2 separate regions of the Homo sapiens genome follow, and region 2 is linked to region 1. The links come from fine-mapping of genetic effects on gene expression. Tissue or cell type: monocytes after interferon gamma. Region 1 holds a variant in brackets; the other region holds the start of a gene. All regions are shown on one strand. Distances are between the middles of the regions.

The links. PIP is the estimated chance that this variant, and not a neighbour inherited with it, causes the effect.
Region 2: RPL9 starts here. The variant in region 1 is fine-mapped to the expression of RPL9 in monocytes after interferon gamma (Fairfax 2014, PIP 0.91).

The regions. Positions count from the first base shown.
Region 1 is chr4:39,543,477-39,547,696 of GRCh38, reverse strand. SMIM14 (small integral membrane protein 14) reads left to right here. Exons shown (of 5, transcript NM_174921.3): 5 at 1-1,361. The region is part of intron 2 of UGDH-AS1 (UGDH antisense RNA 1); the gene reads right to left. Among named protein-coding and RNA genes, the nearest start is that of UGDH-AS1, 18 kb to the right of the region's middle. The variant CTTT/T (reference allele first, on the strand shown) is at 1,565.
Region 2 is chr4:39,457,125-39,461,344 of GRCh38, reverse strand. It overlaps RPL9 (ribosomal protein L9), which reads left to right and starts at 2,423. Exons shown (of 8, transcript NM_000661.5): 1 at 2,423-2,454; 2 at 2,905-2,951; 3 at 3,036-3,151; 4 at 3,664-3,759. The coding sequence starts at 2,906. It overlaps LIAS (lipoic acid synthetase), which reads right to left and starts at 2,289. Exons shown (of 11, transcript NM_006859.4): 1 at 2,183-2,289; 2 at 383-555. The coding sequence starts at 2,227. RefSeq lists enhancers at 1,762-1,811, 2,182-2,476, 2,672-3,422 and a silencer at 2,192-2,241.

The DNA.
Region 1 (4,220 bases):
ATGAAAGTCTGTCACTCTACATGAATTATGTGCTCAAATTTGACCAACTCAGTTTAAGACACAAAACAGTAATTTGAAGAAGGAAAAATGAAGAGAGTTTCTAGTTTAATGGGTTAAATTTTTGTTGTTGCAATAGTAAGTTTAGTCTTCTTATAATATTTCTAAATGAAAAATCATAGGTATTTGTTACCATGTGTGAAGATTAGTTTGTTAAAAGCAAAAGTGGTCGTGTGATATGCTAAATGTTAATTACTGATTTTATATGTTTAAATCACGCCAAACAAATTATGTCTGTGCCATCCAGGGTCTGTTGTTAATCTTTTTCTGAGTACTTGGATTGGGATAAAGGGCTTGTACTATGCACTTTTTATTAATGAATAAATAGAAAACGTTAGTAACACTTTGTGTTTTCTGTTTGGCTTTTGTGGGAAGAGAAGCAAGCATCTTTTGCCTAGTAGATGTTAACATTGTGTATTAAACAGTTTCTTTGTAAGACCTAACTAAAGACATTCCTAAGAGAGAACTTAAGTTTTAAGAAAAGTTGTGAGAAAAATATTCATAAAATATGCAGTATGGGGCCAGTATTCAGAAGTAGAGTTTCTCTCTTGGAAATTAGATTGCAGTCACATTTCTTTGGTTATTTTCTTTCTCTCTCTCTTCCTAGAATACCAGGTAAAATAGACATTTACTTTGAGGGACTAATATCCAATAGTGTTAATTATTTAAGCAGATATATCTAGCTCAAAAGGAACCAGACATGTCACTGTACCAAAAACACACAAAAGTGAAAATTTGCTTCTGTTCTGTGACCTAGAATGTGTCCAGACATTAAAGGTCATGAATACTCATATACATGTAAAAATAGTAACACTGCTCTGGCATGATTTTGACGTCAGTGTTTATGTAATAACTTCAGTGTTATATTTAAAATAGATAAATTTGTGAAATAACAATTTCTTGGAGACAGTCAACTTTTTATGATTTAATCTAAAGATTGTCATGTACATGTCAACGGATATCTGAATCCTCAGTGAAACTGTTAAGTTTTCATTAAATGACTCTGCTGCAATACTAGTTTTCTTCTCAGAAAATGGAATTCAAATAAAATAAGTTTTTTGGTCTTGGCATTTCACCTGATGACTTTCTCTGTTCTGGATCTCAATTTGTAGAGTTGTTGGGGGTTCCCCCCCCTCCAAAAGATGCTCCATAAACACCAACTACAATTATCTTTCATGATCATATTTTTAAAAATTGGAGTTACCTGTGTGATCTTTTCCCATTAGTTGCTTGTAGGGGACTTTAGTGTGCGTATCTCTTCTCAGACAAATGTATTATGTTCGTTCAATAAACACTTCAACAAATTTTTATACTTGTTTCTTAACTCTCTATAGGCTTTAAAATGGATTTTATTCAGGATTTGATTACAGAAACTATTTCAAACCATCAGATGCCAAATTGTCTACTGACGTTAGTGAGGAGATGTCTGGGAGGCAAGGACTATGTAGGGGTGAAAACAATATATATAGTTTTAAAGATAAAGCAACTTTCTTTCTTTTTTCTTTTT[CTTT/T]TTTTTTTTTTTTTTTTTTTGAGACATAGTATCACTCTGTCACCCAGGCTGGAGTACAGTGGCACAATCTTGGCTCACTGCAACCTCTACCCTCCTGGTTTCAAACGATTCTCCTGCCTCAGCCTCCCGAGTAGCTGGGATTACAGGCGCCTGCCACTGCGCCTGGCTAATTTTTGTATTTTTAGTAGAGACGGGTCTTCACCATCTTGGCCAGGCTGGTCTTGAACTCCTGACCTCGTGATCCACCTGCCTCAGCCTCCCAAAGTGCTGGGATTACAGGCGTGAGCCACTGTGCCCTGCCAGGATAAAAAAACTTTGATATCAATACATGGTTTTGGTTTTGATTTTTTGGTTTTTGGTTTTTTTTTTTTTTTTGAGACAGAGTCTTGCTCTGTCGCCAGGCTGGAGTGCAGTGGCACGATCTCGGCTCACTGCAACCTCCGCCTCTGGGGTTCAAGCAATTATCCTGCCTCGGCCTCCGGAGTAGCTGAGACTACCGGCGCGTGCCACCACACCTGGCTAATTTTTGTATTTTTAGTAGAGACAGGGTTTCACCATGTTGGCCAGAATGGTCTTGATCTCTTGACCTCATGATCTGCCCGCCTCGGCCTCCCAAAGTGCTGGGATTACAGGCGTGAGCCAAGTGCCTGGCCATCAGTACATGTTTTATTGGGAGGTGGGAGGATCACTTGATGCCGGGAGTTCAGGACCAGCCTGAGCAACATAGACTCTGTCTCTACAAAAATAAAATAAAACTTAGCGGGACATGATGGCCTGCATCTGCAGTCCCAGCTACTTGGGAGGCTGAGGTGGGAGGATGGTTTGAGCCCAGTAGTTCCAGGCTATTGTGTGAGCTGTGATGATGGCACCACTGCACTCTAGCTAGGGCAACAGAGCCAGATCCTGAGTCAAAAATAAATGTTTTAAAGAGTATTATTTCCTTTTACAAATCTCCACTTGTTTCTAGGAAATTTAGAAATGAGAAAAGTATTATTTGCAATGTCTGGAATGCCAGAGTCTAACCTCTTAAATATGTGCTCATAACCTCAGATACTTGGTCTATGCTTGATAATTAATGGTTTTGAATTGCAGTGTTTATTAGTTTTGAAAATTTGACCAGAATTAAACATAAATACCACACAGCAGGTTCAGCATTATAGAAAAAGCCTCTTAAATTGTTTTTAAATAAATGAATCTGTTATGTATGTAATTCAGTCAGTGTCAGAAAGAGAAGCACTTTTCATATACAAAAGGCATCTCAGACCCTGGGTTGAATGCAGCTTTTCATGACAACTAATTAGTATGTAAACAAACTTTGGAAGTCTAGATGTGTTTAAAGGGACTTCCTTACAATTAATCCAGCCAGGACAATTTTGTGGTTACAAAATACAGGACAGATGGAAATCTGACACCAGAGCCTATACCCCCAATAAATGGGTTAAGATTTATATCCTTGCAAATGTTGTTTGTCTTCATTTTTATCTAACAGCCGTTTTTTTTTTTGAGATAGTCTCACTTTGTCACCCAGGCTGGAATGCAGCAGCACCATTATGGCTCACTGCAGCCTCGACCCCTGGAGCTCAAGCTATTCTCCCGCCTCAGCCCCACAAGCAGCTGAGACTACAGGCGCACCCCACCACACCAGGCTAATTTTTGCAGAGATGGGGTTTCACCGTGTTGCCCAGGCTGGTCTCCAACTCCTGAGCTCAAGCTATCCTCTTGCCTCGGCCTCCAAAAGTGCTGGCATTACAGGCATGAGCCTGTTACAGGCCGAAAGAATGAGGGTCGTGACCAACTCAGTATACCACTGGAGGCTATATGAGCAAATAGAAAACTGTTCTCATGAAAGCAGGATGTTGGAAAACTAACAACTGTGTCTGCTGCCAGAAGGGTTGCTGAGGGCAGTCACACCCCAAGCACAGTGTTCCTTGTGATTATCTATAGGAACATCTGAAGCCTGTTGTACAAAGAAAGCAATTATGTATACCTGTGATAAATCAAGCAACTGACCAACTGCTACCTCTCCCTCCCTGCTCTTTCTACCTAATAAATACGAAGGGCTGTAGAAGCTCAGGGCCCTTGCTCACTAGAAGGAGCCCCCTGACCCCTTCTTCCAAAAATACTTTTTGTCTTTGTCTTCGTTTCTGCATTCATCCCCCTTCGTTCACTCCCATAACAACCAACAGCGACAACTGGCACCTAGGACAGGGACGTGAGTGAAGGTCTGCTGGAGCAGAGAAACTGACACTGACAAGAAGAACGAGAATGAGAAACCCTGCGACGAGTCTGCTGACAGCTAATATAAGGTCAGTGCCCTAAAGAGGTACTGGGAACGGGAAGTTTCTGAATCAGGGTAACATGGGGGAAGAATTTGGCTATTTTCTTTTTTATATTTGGAGTTTAGTTCATCCTGCCATTATTCATTTCTTATTCTGCTAGACAGCAGGAGTCATGTTCAGAGTCAAAAAATTTGAAAGAATCTTTCTGTTCTCTCAACAGCGCCAATTAAAAATAATAAACAGGAGCAGGAGGATGAAAATTGGCCTGTGTCACCCCCTCTAGTAGCAGAAACATCTGAACCGCCTCCTTCAGTAGCAGAAATAGAGACCCCAATACAAAGAACTTTACACTCTACTGCTATGGCTGGAGAACC
Region 2 (4,220 bases), 86 kb after region 1:
TCATTCTTTTAAATTAAGGCAAGGTATCCATAGGTCACATGTAAATTGACTAGGAGAAGCACAAGTTAGATCATCAACAGCTACTAACCCAGATCTAACAGACTAGTAGCAAAGCAGTAATCTTTACTCTGAAGAAGTTGGATGCTGGGTAGAAAATGGGGAGATGGCAGTGTAACATAGTAAGGGCAAGAGAAAAGAGAAAGATTCCAAAAATTTCATCTGCTTACTTGTTCTATCTAGTTCTGTTATCACATCTTTCTAATGATTTTTAGCTAAATTTAACAAGTCTGATATTAAAAACAGATTCTAGGGCTTGGTTATATCTGAAAATAATGCACAATAAAGGAACGGGACGTTAAAATTATCTCAAATTTTCAATTACCTTTCTCCTTTCTGGCGTTTTAGGTTTCCTTTATATTCATCCCAGGTGCTCCTGTCTGCAAGATCACCAGATACAAAATCTTGAAGGTCTGGTCCATTCTGTAGGAGTTCCTTTTTTTTATCTGGCAAGGAGCTTAACGGTCTGACTGGGCTGCAAAAATATCTCCCAAATACCTAAAGAAAGAGTTAATTATGACGTTTATTTAGTGGAGTCCGTAATAATTTAGTTTTAACCCATCATAACACCTAAACGGAAGGGTAAAGCCAAAAAAGTGATTCAGAAATTATGTCAAACTAGGAGCTCTAGTATTCTAGGGCATTAGAATATAAAAGATGACTGAAGGAACCAAACCTAAAAGAGAGTAAGAGTTGACTGTTTACTACTGAGTTTAGAATAGATTTGGAAATCTGTTTTTTTTTTTTTTTTTTTGAGACGGAGTCTTGCTCTGTTGCCCAGGCTGGAGTGCAGTGGCGCAATCTTGGCTCACCGCAAGCTCCGCCTCCCGGGTTCACGCCATTCTCCTGCCTCAGCCTCCTGAGTAGCTGGGACTACAGGCGCCCGCCACCACGCCCGGCTAATTTTTTTGTATTTTTAGTAGAGACAGGGTTTCACCATGTTAGCCAGGATGGTCTCGATCTCCTGACCTCAGGTGATCCACCTGCCTCGGCCTCCCAAAGTGCTGGGATTACAGGCGTAAGCCACCGCACCCGGCCCGAAAATCTCTGGAACTAACATATATCACACTTTCATGTACTCCACCTACCAGGAACTAGATGTTTGTCTTTCAACAAGATTGAACTGCAATAACTGAAGAAGGTGCCACAGTTTAAAACTGTTCTGGTCCTGACTTGAATCAGGGGCGTTTAAAGTGAAGTGTGCAATAAATCTCTCGAGCTTTGAATAATTGTTGAAACGTAGGTTAATAATGCCCAATTAGTTTCAGACAACTGGAAGGTTAAAACCAAGCCTAACGTTTTTACTTTCTTTTTCTTTTTTTTTTTTTGAGATGGAGTCTCGCTCTGTCGCCCAGGTTGGAGTGCAGTTGCGCGATCTCGGCTCACTGCAACCTCCGCCTCGCGGGTTCAAGCGATTCTCCTGCCTCAGCCTGGCGAGTAGCTGGGACTACAGGCGCACGCCACCACGCTCAGCTAATTTTTGTATTTTTAATAGAGGCGGGGTTTCACCATGTTGGCCAGGATGAACGTTTTTACTTTCTAGGTTACATTGTTTCTGTGTTTGAACGTGGCAGTCAAGAACATAAGAAATCATGGTATTCGGCTTTTACATCTGAACACAAACGTGTATGAGATAGCCAAAACACTACAAAATCCACGAGTCTGCACATGTATCTCAAAAGAACCTTCGACAACTCAAAGAGTGCCTGTTAGGGTGTTGCACGATTGCTACTGCACTTCTCAATGTCTGCCGCTGAAGCCTAGCGGACAGGTTTGTGTTCTCTGCGGCTAGAGTGGTGTCTCACACACAGTAAGAGTCCAAGACAGAATAGCTATGTGGGGTGCTCACTGCAGTGCTCCATAAATATAGGGTACAAACCACTCTAAGCAGAAAATAAGTCCTCGGTGCTGGCCCAGAGAGACTTGCAAACAAACTGATGCCAGAGACTCTATATCATGGGGCTGGCGGGATAATTACATGAGATTACACGAAAAACGTTTAAAACTGCCGTTGGCTAGTAGTAAATGTTCAGTAAATGCACTGGCCTTTATTATTGGGCATGGGCGCTCTGAAGGGATAGGATCCCCCCACCCCACGCCCAAACCCGTTCGCCCCGCCGCTCACCCGGGGCCCCAGGGTGCGGGCTGCATCCCCGCAGCGTAGAGACATTTCCTCTTTAGGACTAGCGCAGTGCAGGGGTTGAGGGATCGCTAACTCCCGGGAAAGGACAGGTCGAAATTACGTCGCTCCATTTATGACAAGCAGCCAAGCTGCTCCACGATTGGCTGCTTTAGCCTTACGTGCGTCGCGCACTCATGACGCAATACGCAGGCCCCTTACGCGATACAAGTACGTAATGACGACAGACGTTCTTTCTTTGCTGCGTCTACTGCGAGGTAAGGATGTTTCTGTGCTCGTGGGGGTACTGGGAATCTGAAACCATCTGCTCTGGGAAAGGCTGCGGCGCGGCTCCCACTCTCGGAACCTTGTCCTGTTTGTCCCCCAGCTCGGCAAGCGCCATATGAGCCTGGCGGCGCCAGATGCGAATCCTGTTGTGGGCTTTTTGGCCTATTCCCGCCCCTCAGTCTTGCCGGGATGGCACCGCCCGCATAGGACTTCCAGGGTTGGGCTGAGTGGGAGTTCGACTGCTGGGCCTCGTAATTCTCGCTTTGGGGCTGCTCCTTCCAGGCTGGGACACACTGGGGCCCGCTGTCGGTCTCCCGTCCTCCGACATCTTGTCTGGAACTTCCGCCTGGCAGTCTCCAGTAGGAGTGGAGCTCTGTGCGGCGTAGTTTGGTGGAAAAACGGGCCTTGCGTCGGCCTCACCCCCAGTGTTTGTGTTTCAGAATGAAGACTATTCTCAGCAATCAGACTGTCGACATTCCAGAAAATGGTATGAGACTTGATGTCTTTTACTTACATCTTTACTGCACGTTCCAAGCGTTGTGTGGCCTGACGAGTGTGTTCTCTCTTCTAGTCGACATTACTCTGAAGGGACGCACAGTTATCGTGAAGGGCCCCAGAGGAACCCTGCGGAGGGACTTCAATCACATCAATGTAGAACTCAGCCTTCTTGGAAAGAAAAAAAAGAGGGTGAGGGTTTTTCTTCTGATAATTCAGTTGCTCGTTGGAAGGTGGTTTATAACAGCATCACATTTGGTTGCTTTAACAATTTTCGAATTAAGGTTCAGTGCTTCAGCTTTAAATGTTGCTGTCCAGAATACCAGCCTGTTCAGTGAAATTGAAAAACCAGATTCTGAACACAGCCAATTATATAAAGCTCAAATGTAATAGTGGTCATCAGTGACACGTCTTAATGGTGTTAGAAGTTTGGTTTATTTTCCTAGTGATTGCTTTGTAAAAATCACAGGAACCGGCAGTAGGTCATTTAAACCTGATGATTTAATTTTCCAGAAGGGAAGTTTGTTGCAACTTCTACAAAGCTTAACTGTTGGGAGGTTTTATAGGTGGTTGGATTTTTCCAGTTGAAAACCATGTGCTTTGATAAGGGTTAATTCTAGAATCTTAAAGTAATTCGGTAAGTGGTCTGTTGTCTTTTAAGCCTGCATATTTCTGGAAAGAATACATTTTTTGTTCTGTTACAGCTCCGGGTTGACAAATGGTGGGGTAACAGAAAGGAACTGGCTACCGTTCGGACTATTTGTAGTCATGTACAGAACATGATCAAGGGTGTTACACTGGTAAGCAGATGTATCAGACTTCCTTGTTTTGGAAAGGGAGGTTTCTCAAACCTGTGCTTTATACAGCGTAAGTGTCTCTTTCAGAGAATGGGTCATGTATTTTATTTGGTGTAATACGCAAGAACTTGGCAAAAATAGGCATCTGTGGGTCTTTAAGCGATAGAGCTGAGAGCAAAGACCAGATGGGTACAACATGTTTGTTTTTTTCTGTTGTTGGGTTTTTTTTTTTTTTAATCAAGGCTGGGGTCTCGCTATTTTGTCCAGGCTGAGCTCAAGTGATCCTCCCACCTTGGCCTCCCATAGTACTGGGATTGCAGGCATGAGCCACCATGCATGGCTAGATGGGTACAACTTTTAAAAAGTAGGCTAATGATGAATTTTCATACCTTCCGAATTCTTTAAGATAGGAAATCTACAGTTGCAGTACTAGTTGGTAGTCACATCTCACCATCAGGACCCCT